3 linked regions of the Homo sapiens genome follow. The gene in region 3 interacts genetically with the main gene of each other region. Each region holds a gene or a part of one and is shown on either strand. Other genes may lie near its edges.

Region 1 (7,000 bases), on a different chromosome or scaffold from region 3:
CCAAAATCTGAAGATGCTCAAGTCCCTGATATTAAATGAGTAGTACTTGCATATGCACATCCTCCTATATACTTTATTTTATTTATTTGTTTGTTTATTTATTTATTTTTTGAGACAGAGTCTCGCTCTGTCCCCTAGGCTGGAGTGCAGTGACACGATCTCGGCTCACTGCAACCTCCGCCTCCTGGGTTCAAGCAATTCTCCTGCCTCAGCCTCCCGAGTAGCTGGGATTACAGGCGCCCACCACCACACCTGGCTAATTTTTCTATTTTTAGTAGAGAAAGGGTTTCACCATGTTGGCCAGGCTGGACTTGAACTCCTGACTTCAAGTGATCCACCCACCTTGAGCTCCCACAGTGCTGGGATTACAGGCCTAAGCCACTGTGCCTGCCCTACCCCATATATTTTTGATCCAAAGTTGGTTGAATCCATGGATGTGGAACCCAAAGATAGGGAGGGCTGTCTATACAAGTTTCACAACTTAGTATGCAGTGGTAAGTTCTCAAAACTATGGATTTATCTCAGGAGAGTTCTCCATGCCCCAGTCAAATCAGACTCTCCACAATTCCCCAAACACACCTCCCGCATTCATGCCTGCTTTGACGCCTCCAGTTTCCACTACCTGAAAGACCCTCTCCCCGTATCGCCTGCCTGTTCTCTAAAACTTGTCTCAACATTATCTCCGGCATGAAACTCTTCAGATACCACTGTAGCTGGGTTGGGCCTCTCTGTCTACTACACATTGTCCAGGATTACAGTGATTTGTATCCTTGTCTTGGTCTCCTACTGATTGGTAAGTTCCTTGAAGGCAAAAGTTATCTTAGACATTTTTTCGCTTAACTAAAACACCTAGCATAGAGCTTTGCATGGTGTAGGGCCTCAATAAATGTTTTTTTCAATGAAACAAGTTAGTGTGCATGTTTTCCTAAATAACCAGATTCTAAAACCCCTCTCCATGACCATCACTACCCCGGTTCCTGGGAACCCAGGGTTAAGTTTTGTGGACAATTGCTCATTTCCCTCAATTAGGACTTCTTCAAATCATTTTCTTCTTATACTATCACTTTAATGTTTAGTAAGTGGCTTTGTCTCCCTGTTCTTATAATTTTGTTATAAAATACCTCAAAACCTCTCTGTGTGTCTTCAGTGTGTGTGTTTTTAAAGATGCTGGCAGGAATCCATAAAGGATATGGCTAGGAGATAGCCCTGAAATTTTACATCCAGAAATGCCAATGCTGCCATCCTTTATGGACTCGCTTTTTTTTTTTCAAGAAGATAAATCAATATTTAAAGCTGATGATATAATTTGTACTTAATTTTATTCCTATTTTAATTGTAAATCAGATATCAATATATCTGAGATATAGCATTGAACTAAGAAGACTAAGTTTATGTGTCTCATGTTCTTTTAGAAAATTCTAATGCAGCTGAGAGGAATATTTGGCTGCAATTCAATTTCAGAGTTAATATAGAGATATAGCATTCATCATGTTGTAAAGCAGAAAAAATATCATCCTGGTTATCTGCTAAGGAGAGCTGGAAAAAGTCAAGAAGAGACAGCCTGCAACACTGATCCTTTGTTTGGTGCTTCAAGTATTAAAATTGGTAAACTCACCATACTCTGTTGCAGCTTAACTGTCTTTTCGACAGTTAAAAATAAGGAAATATGGTAACTGGATCTGTCACAAGAAAAGATGTATTGGTCTCAATGGAGAAAACCTCCCCTGAAAAATTAAAGCTTCACTTGACACAGTGGGTTCTCGGGTTGTTTTTGGGAGACATGATAATGAGCAGAGTGGAGTCAGTCATCAGTTTCTGACTCATTACATGGAAGCCCCAGAGAGCTGATTATTAACTAAAAATGGAATACGCTTCTATCCCTGAAGTTGTGAAGGCAAAACAAGAAGCAGAATGGAAACACAAATTTCCCCATTGACGCATGTGGCCCAAACGCGATGCTCAAGGGCAGGTGTCTTCCACAGTTAACCTGCTCATGGAATGTGGTTGATCGCCCCAGAAAATCACCCAAGTCACTCTCAGTATATTGCTACAAATGGCCATACCAGTATGTCAGGGAGATTCCCTTTCTCACATGTTTAAAAGGGCGTTTGGGGAAGTAGTCCTTACCCTAAGCTATTTTAGTTTAGTTAGTCAAACATTTATTGAAGTCTCAGGTATAACCCCACTATAATCTTGCACTAGAGGAATCAAAGTAAGTACAAATTTTGCCAGCAGATACTATCTTTTCTCTGCACAGGTTAAAGTTTATAATCACTAGAGGAAAAGGATAGTGTCTGGTCACAGAATTTTGACCTGCCCAGCTGCCTGCAGCAAGTTTGGGGTGAGGGTTATCCTCTCACTTTGATTAGACTCCCCACTTCTGCTCCCTTTTGCTAGTATCTAAGCGCATTACGGTTTTCTTCAGGTAAATCCTACCCATCACTAATTGGAAGTTAACAAGGAGCTACACCTGAGAGGTCCCTCACCGGTGGAATGATAAGGCAGGTAGGGGATGGTCACAGGGGTGGTGGCACCTATGAGAAAGTCCCATGGCTTGGAAGAGAGAGGAATAATCATTCAATCCTTATTCACACTGAAGGACAGATGGGTGTATCTTTTGTCTGGCAAATGGAGGGCAGAGAAATAGTGCTATAGCATATACAGAATTGGGCATATATAAGAACAACAAGTGACAATCTATAAAAATATGTTTTTAAGTGAAAACAGCTTTGTTGGCATTTTGAAAGTTTTACAGTCTCCATTTAAACGAACAGACCACAAGCCCAAAAAAGTCCGAAGGCAAATGCCAGTGTTACAATGGACTGTGAATTTCTGTAACTAGCATCGTAGAAGTGTCTTGATAAATAGAACAGTAATATAACCTCAAACCAAAACAAAACAGAAGCTTTTTTTTCCCCTGCTCAAAGGAAGAGCCCCCGCTCTGGTTCAAAACCTACTTGTATTTTTTGGCATACAAGAGTTATTTAAGAAAGATAGTTCTTCAAATTACCCTGTTCCAGTCAGTCTAATCGGAGCCTTGATTGTCTTTTACTTAAAAAGAATTAATGAAATGCTTTAGAAATTGTAGACTGGTGTTTATTAAGTCTTCTTAGTATGCATAAATAGTGCTTAGTGGGTTAATATTTAACAAGGGAACTCCCCCTGCCTTTCAGTTCTCTTAAGCATATGTCTACGTTACACAGTATTTTTTAAAGTATCTACATTTTGGCCCTGTTTAAATTAGGCCTAATGCACACATGAACAGCCATATGGTCAGAAATAACGTTCTTAGACCAAGGCTGAAGTACATGCAAAATAACTTATAGTTATTTGCTTTTTTCCTCTAAGTCTCTGAGTCTAGGATCATGCTTATCAGGCTGTATGATAACTACGAGTTTATTAAGATGCCTGCAACACTAGCCTGTGAGTTTATCCAGGGCAGAAGCAAAGCTCTCCTTGCCGTGCCTCCAACCTAACCCAAGGCAGGACTCATGTAAGACTGGCAATCACATCTGTGGAATAACTGTCAGTCCTTGGATGATTTTCATCATTAATCCTGCTTAGACATCAAACATTAAGGTTGATTAAGCCAAACCAAGAGGGATGAAAGAGAAAATTCACAGTGGAGTAAATTCACTGAGTGGTCTCCTACATGTGGTTGACAGAAAGGATGACCAGATTGACAAGTTACTGTTATACCTGAATAAGGTGATATTAGATTACCTTAAAAAGGTTGAACAGAACCTTTGAATCTCAAATACAATATATCTCTGGGGGAAAAAGAAAACGTTCTACTTGTACACTACAAAGACAGTGTTGTTTTCTAGCACAAATGCACTTCTGCTGAGATACTGCTTTGCTAAACTACTGCTAAGACACAATGAGTGACCTTAGAAAAGGGTGCGGAGGTATGTTGGGTGGGAAGAACCACTGTTAACATGCAGCACCCACACACTCGCTCATGAGTGGGCGTATCATCCCTCCAAATAGCGCAATAGGACTGGGAACAGAGATAAGAAAAAACAACAAGAATTTTGCTTGCCTTTTTTTTATTTTTAATTTATGGCTTTCTGTTACCTGGTATGCTGTGTGGCCTGATGACATTTAAGTAATCTGAAATGTACCAGTTCAATCAAAGATTGCTAAAAAGGGCAATCCATTCTTATTAGAAAGTACAGCTGAAAGTAACAGAATGCGCAAAAGAAAGCCATGTTTTCAATGGACGTTAAATAGCAACAAAACAGAAAAGAGAATTCAGTTAACTATAAAATTTTATGAATGTCCAGAAACAATCACACCACAGCACATGACTGAAAACTCTATGAGAAATAGTGTGTTTTTCTCTACTACATAAATTATTGAAAGGGGTCATGTGATTCTTGTAGGCAGAAAGATGCACTTTCCCAAGGAAAGTTCATCATGAAATATATTATTTAAGACTAGATCATCTTCAAGCTATTTTTAATCCTATCGTCTTGCTGCCAAAATTGGCCATAAGCAGCCAATCCTCAGACACTAGAAAAATGATGCTCTTTCATGTAATTTGTACACTGGCATGAGAATGGTATTGCTTTCCAGTTAATCAAATGTTTTGCTGGATGTGGACTGCCTTGAGAAAGGAAAAACTGCTTGCTGACTAATGAAAAGGCAGCTGAACTCTACCGGGTGTGGAGAAGTTCCTGTCTTCCTAAACCACCAACACCAAAAAACCAAAAAATAAGTCGGATTACCATCTTGTCAACAGAATAAAGCCAATCTCCTACAATCTCTTGTCTGAATCATCTCATTCTTCTAGTGGCTCCTATCTCACTCTCTCCTAAGACATGAAGCTGAATGTCGTCACAGTTCCCAGTTTAGAGGGTCACTCTCCATCACCTGCCCAAAACTCAATCCCTTGCCTGCAAGAGTCCCTTTGTCTTAAAGAAGCTGCAAGGTCACTAAAGTCATTTACAGAATTTAAACTGTGTTATGAGGGGATAAAATAATAACTAACAGAGCTATTAAAAGAGCTAATTCTCTTGCCTTTAATTGAAGAAAAGCTATCTTACTTTTTAATGGGACCAGTGATGCCAATATAAACTATATAACTACTACGAAAAATATTCATGAGAAGACTGGGCTTATAGTTGATCTACCTGCTTGCTATCTCTCCTTCATCCAATTTATGTCTTCCTAAAGTCAGATCACAATAGTGGACACCTGGGAAATACTCGGTATTCCAAGTAACACTATAGATCTTTAAGGCCACTGGAAGGGGACAATGCAGAATCCATCCCAGGTAGCAACTCTTCCTAAAAGATGCCACCAGGAACCAAGGATGGTAGCCAGCATCGCTAACTTTAACGTGCACACAAACCACATATTCTGACTCAGTAGCTCTGGGGTGGGAGCTGAGCTTTAGCATCTCTACAAAGCTCCGGGGGATGCATGTGCTACTGTCTATAAGCCACACTGAGCAGCAAGGTATCCACATTTTCTAGAATTGCTTCTCTCTCACTGCTTCCTCTGTCCTGCCTCTCTCTGGATGCCACACAATGCCTTATTCAGACCTAGGAATAAATCCACACTCCACTCTACAGCCAATTACTTCTTTAGTCTTTATTTAATTTGTAGTCTTCTGGGACAATCTATCAGAGGCTGATCATTCCAAGGACCTGATTTATCCATGTTATGGAACACAAAAGTCAAACAGATTTCCTCAGCCTCACAAGGTTCCAATTTTCTACGAGCAGCAGCAAAGAAAAAGAAATGACTTGCAGTCTAAAGCCTGGAGTATTCAGTGTAGTATTCAGGAGATGGGCTAATCCACGGAGCCCTGGGGACAGTGCAGATTATTGTCACATGCCAAGAAAATATGCTAGCTCTCTTCTGAAGCTTTACCATTAAGACTACCTTACACTATAAAATACAACATATTATTAGAGATGTAACCCCAATTGGTGTAAATGTGAAGAAAATCTGTCTGTATGCCAAATGCCTAAAATGACTTTTAGATTAATAATGCACATTTGAAATGATAGGCAAATCATTCATCATTCTCAAACACTACCACTTTTATTCCAAAGTGTCCTATGAGTGCATTTCCTGGTATATATATATATTTTTTCTCTAAATTCCTTTGTTTTCCTATATAGTCACCATCTATGCATTGTTCTGAAAGCTATTACATATTTTACCATCAACCATCTGTGCTTCTACATGATTTATTTTTACTAGAAGCAGTTTTGTCAAAAAATTTTTATCATGTTCTATGGTATGTCATTGTGGTTTGGCATCATAAAATGTAGCCTCTACATTTATCAACCTCAGATACCTGTTGACCACAAAGATAGGTCTACTATGAAAACTCTGTTTCACAAAAAGAAAAAAGTGAGCCTTTACTTAAAAAGAAACTTCAGTTACATGAGAGGGTAACACACTGAAATTCAGCAACAAATATCAAGGTTGTATCTTAATTTCTGTCATAAACATGTGTCTCTGTTTCCCACATTTTTATTAACTTATTTGATAGACAGATACCAGTTACCACCTTGGATTTATTTCAAGTAGAAAGAAAATTTGTAAGTGTGAATTTTTCACAAAAATGTGAAATAGTAAAACTATTAAATCAGTTTTACTTTGGTTTAAAAGGATCCTTTGGGAATCTGGAAGTCCCAACCCCTTTAGTTATAGTGATTAAAAATCAAACCACCTACTTAACCAAATATTTAACAAAAATATTCTTTTCACCCTTTAGCAAATTCTTCCAGAATTACTAAAGATCTGATAATGTGAGATCTCAACAAACAAACAATTCAAGAAGAGGATTTAAATTTTAGAAATTTAAATTGGGGCATTTTAGTTAATCTTACTTTTAAACACCAAACAGTGGCATCAATATTTTGTCAACTTTGGTCAAATAAGATCAGATGTTCACATCAATCATCTACTTTTCTTGGCCTTTTCTCTATTTGGCCTCCTAGTATGAGCACACTTTGTAAAATGTAATAAAAACATGTGG
Region 2 (7,000 bases), on a different chromosome or scaffold from region 3:
TTGCCTGACTATTGTCTTTGGCCAGTGGTCCTAATACCAGGTGGGTTGTTGCCAGCTATAAACAAAAGGCAGTCTGGGAGAGGTGCCTGGTCTGCTAGCCAGCCTCTGCAGAAGGCTACCCCTACCAGAGAATTGCCAGCTGCCCAGTGGTGCATATGAAAGAGGTCTTAGACACAGCAACTCTGGGTAAGTTTATTAGATCTCCATGGGGTTGAAATTCCATCTTCCATCTCTTTGCTTAAGAATCATCAGAGCCTGTTGGACAACATACCACATGTCACTTCCTCTTGGTGAACAGAGGGGATGTGTGTGGAAGAGCCAGTTATATCAGAACCATTTCTGAGCACACATTCTCTCCCTAAGGCCAGGGAGTAAAGAACATTTGACTCAGGATCCTTTGAGCCTGGGTAGAAGGTACCCGCCCCCTTCCTCTCAGGTATTATCCTGTTCCAAGCTGCACCGACTGGCTACTGTGGTGGCATCGGGTAATTATCCTGGAGACTGCGGCTGGGAGATCCTTAAGGGTAGGAGTTATGGGCTATTCTACTCAGGGCTATGTTCTAAATTTAGCATCCCTACAGGAAAGGGGAAGGAAATTAGTCTTTATTGAGTACCTGTTAAGTACTAGGCACTGTGTTAGGTCCTCTACTTATGCAACCAGTGTTTCTTGAGCATCTACTGTGAAGCTAGCAGTGTACTAGGTGCTGGCCATAAGCCACGCATGGTACCTTCCTTCATGGAAACGGCATGCTGTTTCATATATTCTACAGTAACCTTCCAAGGAAGGTGAGTTTATTCCCAGTTTACACATGAAGGTCTTTGTGCCTAAGTGACTGACCCCAGGTGTCCCTCAGCCAGTTAAGTGTCTGAATGAGAATTTACACCAAGGTTGGCATAATTCTAAAGCCAACACTTTTCATCCTATCAAGTTGTCCAGGGAGTAATAAAGTGACCTAGACATGCTGGCCCAGAAAGCCAGAGATGCTGTTGGGCCAAGCAAACCATGCCTGTGAAGGTGCTCACTCTGGACTGATAACTGGCTTTGTTCAGGTAGCTATGGGAAGGATAGTTGGCAGTAGCAGGTTCCCAGAGGCGTGTTGGTAGCCTCAGATTCTGGCACTGGTAAAACTCAGACATGGCAGGTTTCAAGTGGGCATCAGGGTTTTGCCCAGAGTGAGCTGCTTATTAATTTTTTCTTTTTTTTTTTTTTTTTGAGACGGAGTCTCGCTCTTGTTGCCTAGGCTGGAGTGCAGTGGCGCGATCTCAGCTCACTGCAGCCTCTGCCTCCCGGGTTCAAGTGATTCTCCTGCCTCAGCCTCCCAAGTAGCTGGGATTACAGGCATGCGCCACCACACCTGGCTAATTTTGTATTTTTAGTAGAGATGGGGTTTCTCCATGTTGGTCAAGCTGGTTTCAAACTCCCAACCTCAGGTGATCCGCCTGCCTCAGCCTCCCAAAATGCTGGGATTACAGGCATGAACCACCGTGCCTGGCCCCGGCCAATTTTTTCATTGTTAAAACCCTCTCAGGCCCTGCCAATAGATGACAGTGGTGTGCGTGTGGGGAGAAGGTGGCCTGCCCCAGGTATCTCTACTTAGTGGTGGAGTGATGCTTCAAGGACTGAAAGTGTAGACCCTTAGCCAGATTACTGCCTGCCTGGAGTCACCTGATGAAATGCTGAACCTGTTCGGCTGTCTTGTCCATCTGTCTCTCCCGCCTGTAAAATGGAATAATGATAGCCAGCTGCCATAGCTTGACTCGAGTAAAGGATCTAGCACAAAAGCCCTTCTCCTGCCATAATTGTAGGGTGGAAACCCTTTAATGAATGGGCAGCTTCCCTCAGAGAACTGACTCTTCCCCCTAGAGTTTCTCCTTGAGAAACAAAGTCCCTGTGATACTTTCCTGGAATGTTGTATACATGACCTTCCCCGAAGGGACACAAGTGTTTCTGGTGCTTTCCAATGGGAATGTGGGAAGGGACCCAGGTGGGCCTTGCCACTTTGGGATTGCTGTCCCTGAAGAAATCCCTTAGCCTGATAGAAACGTAATTGTTGGGAGCAATGAACTGTGTTGGGGGAGAAAACATAACTTGGCCTTTCTTAAGCTGTATGGCTCAGTGGTCTGAGTTTCTGTAGATCTCTTATTGCCTAATGTGGCTTCTTCAGATGGATGTATGCTTAGTTGAAGCACCTCAGCTCCCTTTGCAGATAGTGGCAGTTCTGTGGTTTTCTTAGGGAAACCCCATTAGAAACCCCAAATGTGGAAATTTTTAGTAATCTCATTCGGGTCCCAAAATTAAGTAGAAGTGTCTCAGGGGCTCCCCCTTGAAACACCTACTTCTTCTGAGTGTACATTTGAGGTTGCTCTTAAAATTCTGTTACCATCACAGGGTTTTCCAGACTTCCTAGGAATAATTTCCCCAGTAGCCCCACAGAGCCCTTTAGCTTCTGTCGAAAATTACCCGGGTATTTTTTCAGGGGGCTCCAATGGAACCTGGAGGGTTTTCTTGACTTTTGTATGGGTGTCCCCAGATTTGTTTGGGCTGCATGAAACAGCAGTTGTTATCTCTGTCCCTTCCCCCAGCAGATATCTGTCCTGAGGCCAGTGGGCTTGAGCGTCCTCCTCTGTGTCCAGTCTCCCTGGTTTTGCCAGTGCCCTCAGCCTTCCATCATGGGGCTTTCTTGAAGCAACTGTGGTTTTGCCTGAGTTTAATGTGGATAGACATAGGGGTAATTCCCAGTGTACTGCTTTTCTACGGAAGTATAATCTCCTACTGCCTTAATTAAGCAGAGGCCCTGTCCCCACCCAACCTCCAACCTAATTCCACAGAGTCCTCCCTAAGGACTCCCTCTTTTTTCTTTGAAGGAGTCACTCTACTCCTGGATCCTCTTCTCTTCTGCCCCTCTATCCGACAGTCTGTCTTCCTTGTTCCCAGTTGGCAGACCTGAGTCAGGCAATCCCACTGGGTCTTTTTGTTTAGCCTGGGGAAGAGAAGACCCAGGAGAATATCACCAGCTTCAGATATCTGAAGGAAGAGGGACTGAGTCTTTTTTTATTGGTGTGGTACCTGGCAAAACTTGGATAAATGAAAAGAAGTTAACAGTTGGTAGAGCTTAAATTATGTGCAGAGAAGACATTTCTAACAGATTTACTCTGTCCTAGATTTAGGAGCTCCTCAGGGTGGAGGCCACATCTTGTCCATGCTTGTTTCCTCAGCACTGAGCAGAGGCCTTGGGCATAGCAGATACCTAATTGAAGAGAAACCCACTAAATTTCTGAAGAAACAGACCCTTGTCAAGCCAGAATAACAATAATGGGAGTGGCTATTTACCTAATAATTCATTCGTTGAGTCAAACAATGTTTATTGAGCTCCTACTGTGTACCATACTGGGAGTATGGCAGTAAACAAAAGTAAGCAAAACTAAGTTTCTGTCCTCATGGAGCTCACATTCCAATGAGGAGTGACAGGCAATAAATATATAATTACATGTTTATATCAGATGATTGTACATGCTATGAAGAAAATAAAGCAGGTTGGGGCATAGGGCATGTCTAGCAAGGGAGGGTGGGGCTGCAGTTTTAAAAGAGTGATCAAAGAAGGTGTAAGGGAGAAAAAAATGGCTTTCCTCTACCCTTCTAGGTCCTTTGGCTGGGCTGAGAATTAAATTGACATAGACAGATTAACTGGAGGAAAAATAATTAATTACATAGTTGTACACAGGAATCCTACAAAATATGAGGCTCAAAGAAGGGTCAGATAATTGAAGCTTATATAGCATCCTGAGCTACAGAAAAGAATATGGGGCTTGGGACTTCTGTTAGGGGCTTGAGTGGCAGCAACCCAAGTTATGGCAGGGTGAGGGAAAGAATTGGTGGTGGCGTGTGTCTGTGGTCCCAGATACTGTTGAGGGGGTGTACTGAGGTGGGAGGATCACTTGAGCCTGGGAGGTGGAGGTTGCAGTGAGCCGAGATCAAGCCACTGCGCTCCAACCTGGGTGACAGAGCAAGACCCTGTCTCAAAAAATAAAAATAAAAAGTCTCTCTGGTAATAAAATTTGTCTGGAGCAGCCCTCTTCCTAATACAGATACCTTTACTAGTGTAGATTTCCTTTTTAGATGTGAATTTCTTTTACAAAAGGACAGCTTTTCAGAGCTACTCTTATGTCTGCAGTTTCTCAGAATAACCAGTTCAAAATATGCCAAAGAAGTATATTTTTGGGGTGGCATATTGTTTTCCTACAGTCATATTTTGGGATGGTATGTCCTGAGTCCCAACAAAAGTATTACCTAAATTTATTTGAGCCAAGCGCTAAATGAGGTAAGGAGGTGGATGATGTAGGTACCCTACAGCAAAGGGTGTTTAAAGCAGAGGGAATGGACTCAGGAGGGAGCATGCTTGACATTTTCAAGGATGAGCAAGAAGGTCAATGTGGCTGGAGAAGAAACAGCAAAGGGGAAAAGGGTAGAAGGTGGGGAGGGAATGGTTGAGGAGGAGGATGGAGAAGTAGGTGGGGGCCAGATCGCATACAGCATTACAGACCATGATGAGGATTTGGCTTTGGTGGAATGGTCTGTATTCCTTTTTTTTTTTTTTTTGAGACAGAGTCTTTCTCTGTCTCCCAGACTGGAGTGCAGTGGCACGATCTCTGCTCACTGCAAGCTGCACCTCCTGGGTTCACGCCATTCTCCTGCCTCAGCCTCCCAAGTAGCTGGGACTGCAGGTGCCCGCCACCACACCCGGCTAATTTTTGGTATTTTTAGTAGACGGGGTTTCACCATGTTAGTCAGGATGGTCTCGATCTCCTGACCTCGTGATCCGCCCGCCTCAGCCTCCTAAAGTGCTGGAATTACAGGCGTGAGCCACCGTGCCAGGCCTGGTCTGTATTCTTAAGGGTGGCAACAGGGAGCCCAGTGAAGAGGCTGGTGCAATTGCCAGGTGAAAAAGAATAGTGGCTTGGACCTAGAGGTGGAGGTGTAGTGAGACGGGGACTGGAGAATAAGACCAGGCTTGCACATGGTATATTGATGGGTCCAGCCATCCTGGAAACCATATTTTTCAACTACTTGGAGGTCCTAGAATCAAAGTTAAGTAAGATAGATGTTCTTTGGGAATAGTTCTCTCCAAATGTGATATTCTGATGAATGGTCCTCTTCCACTCCAACAGTATTTCTGTCTGAGTAAATGAAATTTGTCTGAGTTCAGTTCCCAACTCATCCGTGTCTACCTATGCAAGCTCCTTTTACCTCTCTGAATCTTGGGACAAATAATAATACCTGCCTCACAGGGGGCGATGGTAAAGACACAGTGAGGTATACCTGAGATGCATAAAGACTGGAGCCATGTTGGTATCATTATTCTTATTATCTTTCCACAGAACGCATGTCAGAGACCCATTCACGGAATCTTGAGCATCCACTCTCCTTTTTCTAAATACCATAGTGACCCATCAGCACATCTCAGAGCAGGCCCTTGCAGCATTTCTGTTGTAGTAGGAGCTCCACAGTGTTTGTGTGCAATGGTGGTGTAAGCACTGGTCTTGGAGTTGGAATCCCAGTTCTACTCTCAGTCTCACCTTGGCCAAGTCACTTCACCCCCAGTCCCCAGTTTCCCTTTATGCAAGATGGAGGGTTTGAAGTAGGCAATAAAGGAATGCTGGTTCTCTCTATCCTTAGGCCTTGTGGCGGATTCCACCATTACAGCATATTTCACATTAGTTATATTTTAAAATGGCTCTCTCCTGTTGACAGATATGTCAGCACCTTAACTAAACCCAGTGTCAAGGCAGGCTAGTTTATCACTGAGCCCACAATAGTGCTACCCTATATTTATGTAACACCTTACAGCTTCCAAAGCACTTTCAGATCCACCTTGCCTTTTTGATCCTTATAACCACCCAGAGAGGTGAGCAGGAAGGATGACATCTCCGTTTCAAAGGAGAGAAATCAGGTGAGAAAGATGAATTGACTTGCCCAAGGTTACATCAGGAGGAAGAGGCAGTTTTTGGACTTTCAAATTGGAACTTGACTACTAGCTTGCTGTGTGACCTTGGGCAAGTCTTTTAACTTGTAAATGGCTATAGTAATGCCACCTTTTTCTGAAGATTGGGTGAATTAATTCATTCTTTTAAGGCTTTCATATCATCCTAGGGCTCTTCACTCACATCATCTGGCTTCTCTTTTTTTACATATTGATTTTTGAAATTGTGGTTTTGTATAAAGAAACTGCCTTTGGGACCGTCTGCTATTTGGTTTCATCCCTGATGAGACTCTCGGGCCAAGCTTGAGCCTTACAGTGAACTCTGAGCCACACAGCTTTTTGGGCAGCCTCCAGTGCTCCCCTCGGAACTGGAGGTTTTTCTCCAGCTCTTCAGGAAATGCCATTGCGATGACTTCCATGGACTGCTTCCTGTCCCAGCCCTGCCGGCAAGAGTGTGGAAACTGGAAAGCAATGTCCCTAGAGGTCCGCCCCCCAAAAACTACTTTTTTTGGACGTGTCCCTGCCTTTCCTCTTGTCCATTACTTTCTTTGCTCCCTACCCTTTCCTCCTTCACCTGGCTTCTGCCTCCAGCTGTGATCATCCCTTCAAGATTTAGAAAATGCCTTTCTACTTGGTTCTGCCAGGCCATTACCCCCTACCCTAGGCTAGGCTGTGAGGGAGGTCAGTTAGAATTCCTGGGTTCTCTCCTTGGCTCCATCACGCATTAGCAGTTTCAGTCCTGGACTTCCCCTGGAGATGCATTAAACCTGTTGCTTGCGGTGCCCTGTGTCATCCATTAACCCTGAGTTCCCCTAGGAGATTCCACCCCACCCCTGCATAGGATGGGATTCTTAAGAGATAACTTGAGGTTTGGCACATATAAATCCTGCCTCTTGGAAATTGATGATAAAGGGTGGAGTGAAACAGAGCCTGCCTTCCCCTCCCCCAGTCACCTTTGAGGAGGAAGCTAGAAGGTTGAAAACCTTGTTGGACAATCATCTGAGGAATGGGAGCTGGCCTGG
Region 3 (7,719 bases):
ATAATTCCACCATCCAAATATAAATGCCCAGTAATATTTTACTCTTTCCTACCAAATATTTTATGCATACACATTTTTCCTTATATTTGAACACATCATATTTCTGTAGTATAAGTGGATTTTTCCACTGGTAAGTACATCTTGTATTGTAAGTACTTTCCTGTCTTTAGTTTTTCTTCTACAGCATGGGTTTTAATATCTGTAAGGCACTTAATCTTAGAGATGGGCTATAATTTACATAGCCAGTTCCTGATTACATTTAGGATGACTTTAAAACGCAAATCTTTAAGAATACCTCTAATTATTTTCTTAGAATAATTTCCTAAAAGTAGTATTATGGTGTCAAAATGAATAAACCTTTTTGAGGCTCTTGTTACACATTCAATAGCATTTTCTGACAGTATATAATAAAAATCAATACAATCCAAGGCTGAGATGACATGAATTTGGATATAATAAGATTGGCGCATAGCTCCGTCCTCCATAGCCATCTCATCTCACTCATTTCATTACCTTTTCAACAACGTGACAATGCTTTTTAAGTGGTTTCCCCATCAAATCATAACTGACATTTAGAAGGGAAAATGCTAACGTGGCTTCTTCTCTGGCCTAGGTGTTCCAGGATACACTGTCAGATGATAGTCAGCCTTTTCTGTTTTTTGTTTTTTGCTTAAGTTACACATCCCTCTAGTCATAGTACCTAGAAAACAGTCACTTGCAAAGGATTTATGACACCATTAACAACGGGCCATCCAGCACTGTAAGGGGAGAGACATCGTGTGGCAGTTCTTGTTTTATGGGACCTAGATTTTCTGCACTAGCTTATGGGCTAGAAACTTTGTTAAGCTAGTATTTTTTAAACAATGTACTTGTATTTTTGGTTCCTAAAAACAGTAAAAGTAACACTTGTTTCATAGAGAAAGTACAGAGAAGTATAAAAAGAAAATAAAAATTACTTAAAAACTTGCCATTTGGAAGTAATTCTTTGGTCACATTTTGTGGCCTTTTCCCAATTTTTTTTCCACATGTATATATAACATATGTAAATTTGAATATGTTGCCATGTAATACATATATTTTATATAATCTCTGCTAAATAGTAAATGTATATAAGTCTATTTGTATTACATAAGTATATTTATTATTTTATATATTTATGCCCCAAAGTATTTAAATATAAATATGTGTTTATAATAATCATATAAATAAATGATATATAAATGTTTGTAATCTATATATCCATATAAACATAAAAATATTTTTTAACCTCATTTCACTAAAAGCCTCTGAAGAAACTACTATTACTGTCCCCATTTTTCTGTTGTGAAAAATCACGGCTTGGAAATAAGCTAGTAAGAGAGAGAGCCACAGCCAGATTTAAGTGTCTCACTCAAGGGCTTCAGTGACAGATCACAAAGATTTAGACGTCATTCTACTTGCAGCTGGAAGGCAGTGAAAGAATCTCATGAAGAAAAACATAAAATCATAACTTTTTTAGAGAACAACATTTCAAAAAATTTTATAATAACAAAGCCACAAAAACAGAAGTTCTTAACAAATCCACTATAGGAGAGGGGGTTAGAGCCTCACAAAGGAAGTGCTAGAATCTAGGCCCCAGCATCTCATTCCAGAGTCCCATTCTACCACTGTATTACATGTCACAATTAAACTGTAAATACATTCCATCTCATCACAATCATTCCAGTAATATTCTAGCAGCATCCTAGCTCTTGCAGTGATAACTAAAAAGCAAAACATGCATTTGCCATCGGAAGCAGAAACCTGCATCTCATCCGAAGCTTGAGAGAACCTGAAAGCCACTCGCTCTCAGGCCCAAACCCCTAACCGGCAGGTAGTATTGCCACTCCCTCCAATCCAGGCTGGCTGCCTCAGACTGCGGGCTGCCCCGGAACCTGACAGACATCCATTCTGCACGCACATGATGTCCATAACAGGGCGCTGCAGCCACGGCATTCAAACAACCCAGCAAAGGTGTCCAAACCTCAGCAAAACATATAATCCCATCATTTTCAAACAGAATGAAACTTGCAACTTCACCTGTAAATTCTTAACCCCACAAGTGCAGGTCTCTGATTGTGTCTATCTAGTCTTCCCATTATATTGTTTTTTGAACTGTTCTGTATCTTTTTAATTTTTTTTTTTTTTTTTTTTTGAGACGGAGTTTCGCTCTTGTTGCCCAGGCTGGAGTGCAGTGGCACGATCTCGGCTCACCACAACTTCCACCTCCCAGGTTCAAGCGATTCTCCTGCCTCAGCCTCCCGAGTAGCTGGGATTACAGGCATGCGCCATCATGCCCGGCTAATTTTGTATTTTTAGTAGAGACGGGGTTTCTTCATGTTGGTCAAGCTGGTCTCAAACTCCCGACCTCAGGTGAACCACCGCCTCGACCTCCCAAAGTGCTGGGATGACAGGCGAGAGCCACCACGCCCAGTCTTTTTTAATTTCTTTAAAAAATAAATAATTGAATTAGTAGGACCACATGGGTGTGTTTGTGTGTATGTGTGTGTGCGTTTATGTTGGCAAGTGTGTATGTTGGTGGGTATGTGTGTTGGTGGGAGGATAGCTGTAGCAGCAAAGTCAGTAGAGATTTAAATTTTGGCTTCTATTATTTCACAAGTTTGACTGGGATCAGGATGAGGCCTTTATACAAGTAGTTAAACTTGCAGCATTTCAGAAGCTCCTAGGACTTCATCAGTCTAAGCTAGAATGGCCTTCAGATCTGGAAACTGCACGGCCCTCGGCAAGGCTCTCAGAGGGACTGCTACCTCTTACACTAACTTCATGGTTTCCCCATCCACACTCACATACGAGGATCACCTCCATGGCCCCAGGGCCACCCGATCTCACTCTCAGCAGCCTAGAAAACTCCAGAATCAAAGGCCTTCCTCCCAAAAGGCCCCTCTGACCTTAACAAAGAGGCAAATCCTTACCTTACTCTCACGATGGTAGCACCTTCGTCACAGGCCTATCCACTACCATCTGAGCATCTAAGACAAGAGCAAACGTCTAATGAAGGACGGAAGGGCACAGCCAGCCAGCTCTACTTCCTGTTTCGAAACTCCTGAGTCACAAACACTAGAGGGGAAAGAGCGCTTACCACTTGCCCCTGAGTGAGCAGAGTGCCTTCTAAAGCTTCTAAAGCTGCAGGAAAAAGGCCTGGTGGTCCAGGAGACCGCACGCAGGGCACCTGGCCACCTGAGCACTGGCCCCTGGCTGTGACTTTGGATGGGCCATTTTACCTTTGGGGCCTCATTTCCACATTCCAAAACAAGGACGTTGGACTGGATTGTAACTAAGAACACTTTCATTTCATATTTAGGATTTAAAGATTTTTCTGGGTTCATCATTAAGACTTTAATTTTTTCATTCAATGAATCTTGATGGAGCACCTCAGAGAGGTCTTGAGATTGGACACTGCAGAGCCCTCTCATCTTGGTTCTCAGGGTGGCTGTGAACTTTCAGAGCTAAAGCCCCTGGTTTAGCCAAGGAGCATCTCTGTGGCCCCAAGGTCACCAGATTCCACCCTCAGCAGCCTAAAATACTCTAAAATTAAAAAAAAAAAAAAACTCTAAAAAGAAAAAACTCTAAAATGAAAAACCTCTAAAAAGAAAAAACTCTGAAATAAAAAAATTCTAAAATGAAAAAAATCTAAAAAGAAAAAACTCTAAAATGCAAAAACTCTTTGGTAAGATGGTAAGTCCATCTTACCAAAGGTGATCCTTGTATATGAGTGTAGCTGAGGAAACCATGAAGTTAGCTGAAAGCTGGGTTTACCATCTTATCAAAGAAGCAAATCCTGGGGCCCTCACCATGTTGGGCTCTAGGGATATACCAGTAAACAAAATATTGCCTTCATACTGAGAGTTAGATGAAATGTTTTCTGATATTAAAAGTAGGAAAAGAAAATCAAACACCTCTCTTCTTTGAAACTGCCTTTTGTCTTTCCCCAAATAGAATATAAGCTTTCAGAGGGTAGGGACTCATAGCTGAGAAGACTGAACGAAGTATCTGAAAAGGACTCTTCACCAGAGAGGGCTAGGTCAAGATGGCCTCATAATATCAATGCCTGGATGGCCACCGTGGCTCATGCATGTAATCCTAGCACTTTGAGAGGCCAAGGTGGGAGGATCCCTTGAGCATAGGAGTTTGAGACCAGCCTGGGCAACAAAATGAGACACCATCTCTATGAAGAAAAATTTTTTAATTAGCCAGGTGTGGTAGCACGCGCCTGTGGTCCCAGCTAATCTGAAGGCTGAGATGGGAAAATTGCTTGATCCCAGGATGTTGAGGCTGCAGTGAGCCGTGATTGCACCACTGCACTGCAGCCTGGGTGACAGAGCAAGACTTTGTCTCAAAAAATAAATAAATAAAAAAGAAATAGAAACAGAATGAGCAAAATAAAATACCAATAGTATTAATATGCAATAATAATTGCTAACTCGTGTAGTAAGTGATGTATGCGTATTATCTCCTTCAAGCCTCACAGTCACCTCTGGAGGCATTATTAATCATTTAATGATGAGATAACAGAGGCACAGAGGAATTACTTGCCTGAGATCGCATAGTTAAAAAACAGTGTACACATACAAAAGAAAAATACATTTTGCAAAGATACAGATAAATTCACGAATCCACATCAAAACATTAGAGAACTGTCTTTGGGGAACAAGAGAGAGGGCAGGAGGGCAAGGGTGGGGGTGGAGAGATAAAAGGAAACCCTTCAGACACGGAAGAGGGGGAAGGGGCTGTGCACCTCAGGGCATCGTGATTCGACAGAATGACAGAATAAAGTACTTAACCGTCGGCCCCAGGGCCAAATGAAAAAGAAAAAAAAGTGGATTGATAAAGTCTTCTGGACTCTCCAAACGGGTCCACAGGAGGGAGACCGTGTATCTGCATTCGAGGCGGCAGGGAAGCTTGGAGGACAAAAAGGTAGCAGAGGAACTGGAGACTGCTCAGAGTGAAAAAGTAGCAAAGTCAGAGGCAACGGCTCAGAGAGAAACCACACAGGAGACCTGGGCCAGGCAGCACCCAGAGGTGTCCTCAGAAGGGCAGATCCAAGTTGCTTCCCCACCCCCACAGCCCTGTTTCTAGAGCAAGTCAAGAAACAAAAATATTGTGGTTTCCTGTTGAAGAGGCCACCTTGGCAACAGGCACTCACCCGCTCCACCCTTTCCTGGCACCATCGCAGTCTCCGAGTCCCCTAACCTGCCTAACTCCACGTGCTCAGCAGGGAAGGGGGTGGGAAAGGCTCCCAGGAAGAAGTTTCTTTTACTTTCAATAACCACCCTGGCTCTTCTGCCTCCCTCCATGGCCTCACTTCCTGTTGAGTTGACTAGCAAATTCAGCAGGGCTTGAAAAAAAACACAAAAGATAAAAGGAGGAGAACCTGTGAAAACACTTCCCTCCAGCAGAAAGGCAGAATCTGGTCTCCGAGAGAAAGAGAAAACTTCACCACAGAAGGAACTGCAGGGTAAACTTTACTCCTAAAGCAGAACAGAGATGACTCACTCGAACAAGAAATGTTTCCTGTTTAAAGGAACAGATGCCCAATTTCCAACCATTCAGAAGAGGGATGTGGCAGACAATTCATGGACGTGCAAACTAAAGCCCGAGCGCTGGACATGCTTTATTGGAAAGCATTTATACTGACTCCATTTAGTAATAATAACCCCTGTCGGTGGCAAGTAATATGCCATTCTTTCTTGCAAAGGGTCTGGGAATAGGAAGTTTCCCTTTGCCTTGATCAAACCTCAGCACTGAAGTCACAGACCAGCCCTCTCCTCCCTCCCGCCGGACTGGGTAAAGCCAGCCCTGTAGCTGAAATGTAGGTAGATTGTTCAGAAAAAAGGAGGAAGTGTTCTGGCTCAGCCCTACTTGGCTTAGCCCTGCTCGGCTCAGCCCTGCTCAGGCTGAGTTCCCATCCTTGGCCATGTTCTCCAGTTTAGTTGTAACCCGTGTCTTTGTAGCATTGATCCTGGAGTGTTGGTGCTACTGAGGTCTGTTCTCCAAAGCTCTGAGCCCTAGACCCTCCCCTGTTCTCTCATTTTTTTTTTTTTTTTGAGACGGAGTCTCGGTGCGTTGCCCAGGCAACAGTACAGTGGTGCGATCTTGACTCACTGCAACCTCCACCTCCTGAGTTCAGGTGATTCTCCTGCCTCAGCCTCCCGAGTAGCTGGGACTACAGGCACCCACCACCACCCCCGGCTAATTTTTGTATTTTTAATAGAGATGGGGATTCACCATGTTGGTCAGACTGGTCTTGAACTCCTGACCTCAAGAAATCCACCCGCCTTGGCCTCCCAAAGTGCTGGGATTACAGGCATGAGCCACGGTGCCCAGCCCCTCCCCTGTTCTCTGCCATCTGCCTCTCTTTCCCATTTGAATTTTTTGTTCGGGGGACGGAGTTTCGCTCTTGTTGCCCAGGCTGGAGTGCAATGGTGCCATCTCGGCTCACAGCAACCTCCGCCTCCCGGGTTCAAGCGATTCTCCTGCCTCAGCCTCCTGGGTAGCTGGGATTACAGGCATGCGCCACCATGCCCGGCTAATTTTGTATTTTTAGTAGAGACAGGGTTTCTCCATGTTGGTCAGGCTGGTCTCAAACTCACGACCTCAGGTGATCCACCCGCCTCGGCCTGGCAGAGTGCTGGGATTACAGGCATGAGGCAGCGCGCCCAGCCATGAATTTTTAAAAAGGGTTTTCTGCCCTTTTGCTTTCACATCTTGTACATTTTATAACCAGAACACCAGCAATAACACATTACCTATATGTTGCACCTTGACATGAACTATCTCTAATTCTGGCAGCAGAATTCTCTAATTCAGGGTATTGTTCTCCCATGTTATGGATGAGGAAACTAAGACTCAGACAGTTACATGGAGTCAAACTCAGTCCTGCTGAGCCAAAAACAGAGATTTTTCTATGACATACTAACTCCCTTTCTCCAACACTTCAAATTTGGAATGAATCATGTGGATGGAAGAGCAACAAATTTAAACTAATAGTGACTGGTGCATAAAGGGCAGAAGGTCCTTGGTTTCTCAGTCACCTAACAAAAAGGAGTTGGCCTAATAAAGGCACAAGCTAATACTTATCAAACCATTGGCGTATGCCAGACACAGCCACCTAAACTAGCTCATTTCCACTTCTGAACAGTTCTCAGAAGTGGATGCTACGATTGGTCCCATTTTATGGATGAGGACACTGAGGCTTAGAGAGGCTGAAAGACTTGGCCACGCTCAGTCAGTGAGTGACAGAATAAGGTCTGTTTGTCTCTAAAACCCTGAGTGGTTAGTCACCACCTAAACATTAATGCATAGCCATGAATCTCAATCTGACCCACCTCAGAATTAACTGTAACATTTCTAAAAATATGAGTCTTCCAGCTCCAGCTTTGGAACTCCTATCTGAGCAAAACTGTGGGAGATAAAACAGCTGGAGCACTTAGAATAGTGCCTGGGCCTTCCACATTTCTCAATAAATAGGCTGTGGGTGCAGTGGCTCACACCAGTAATCCCAGCACTTTGGAAGACCAAGGCAGGATGATCGCTTGAGCCCAAGAGATCGAGGCCAGCCTGGGCAACATAGGGAGACACTGTCTCTGCAGAAAATTTTAAAAAATTAGTCAGTTATGGTGGCATGCATCTGTTGTCTCAAGCTACTCAGGAGGCTGAGGTGAGAGGATAACTGGAGTGTGG

Evidence for each region.
Region 1: of CASP8 (region 3) and BCL2, changing one suppresses a phenotype caused by changing the other (phenotypic suppression), as found in Homo sapiens cells (one study listed by BioGRID).
Region 2: of CASP8 (region 3) and BCL2L1, changing one suppresses a phenotype caused by changing the other (phenotypic suppression), as found in Homo sapiens cells (one study listed by BioGRID).

Annotation. Positions count from the first base shown.
Region 1 is NC_000018.10:63,309,770-63,316,769, forward strand, and holds part of BCL2 (apoptosis regulator Bcl-2), read right to left. Parts: intron 1-7,000. UniProt on the Homo sapiens protein: Suppresses apoptosis in a variety of cell systems including factor-dependent lymphohematopoietic and neural cells. Regulates cell death by controlling the mitochondrial membrane permeability. Appears to function in a feedback loop system with caspases.
Region 2 is NC_000020.11:31,712,869-31,719,868, reverse strand, and holds part of BCL2L1 (bcl-2-like protein 1), read left to right. Parts: intron 1-3,024; exon of another isoform or gene 3,025-3,248; intron 3,249-7,000. UniProt on the Homo sapiens protein: Potent inhibitor of cell death. Inhibits activation of caspases. Appears to regulate cell death by blocking the voltage-dependent anion channel (VDAC) by binding to it and preventing the release of the caspase activator, CYC1, from the mitochondrial membrane.
Region 3 is NC_000002.12:201,255,846-201,263,564, reverse strand, and holds the start of CASP8 (caspase-8 isoform 2 precursor), read right to left. Parts: upstream 3,030-7,719; 5' UTR 2,952-3,029; intron 1-2,951. UniProt on the Homo sapiens protein: Thiol protease that plays a key role in programmed cell death by acting as a molecular switch for apoptosis, necroptosis and pyroptosis, and is required to prevent tissue damage during embryonic development and adulthood.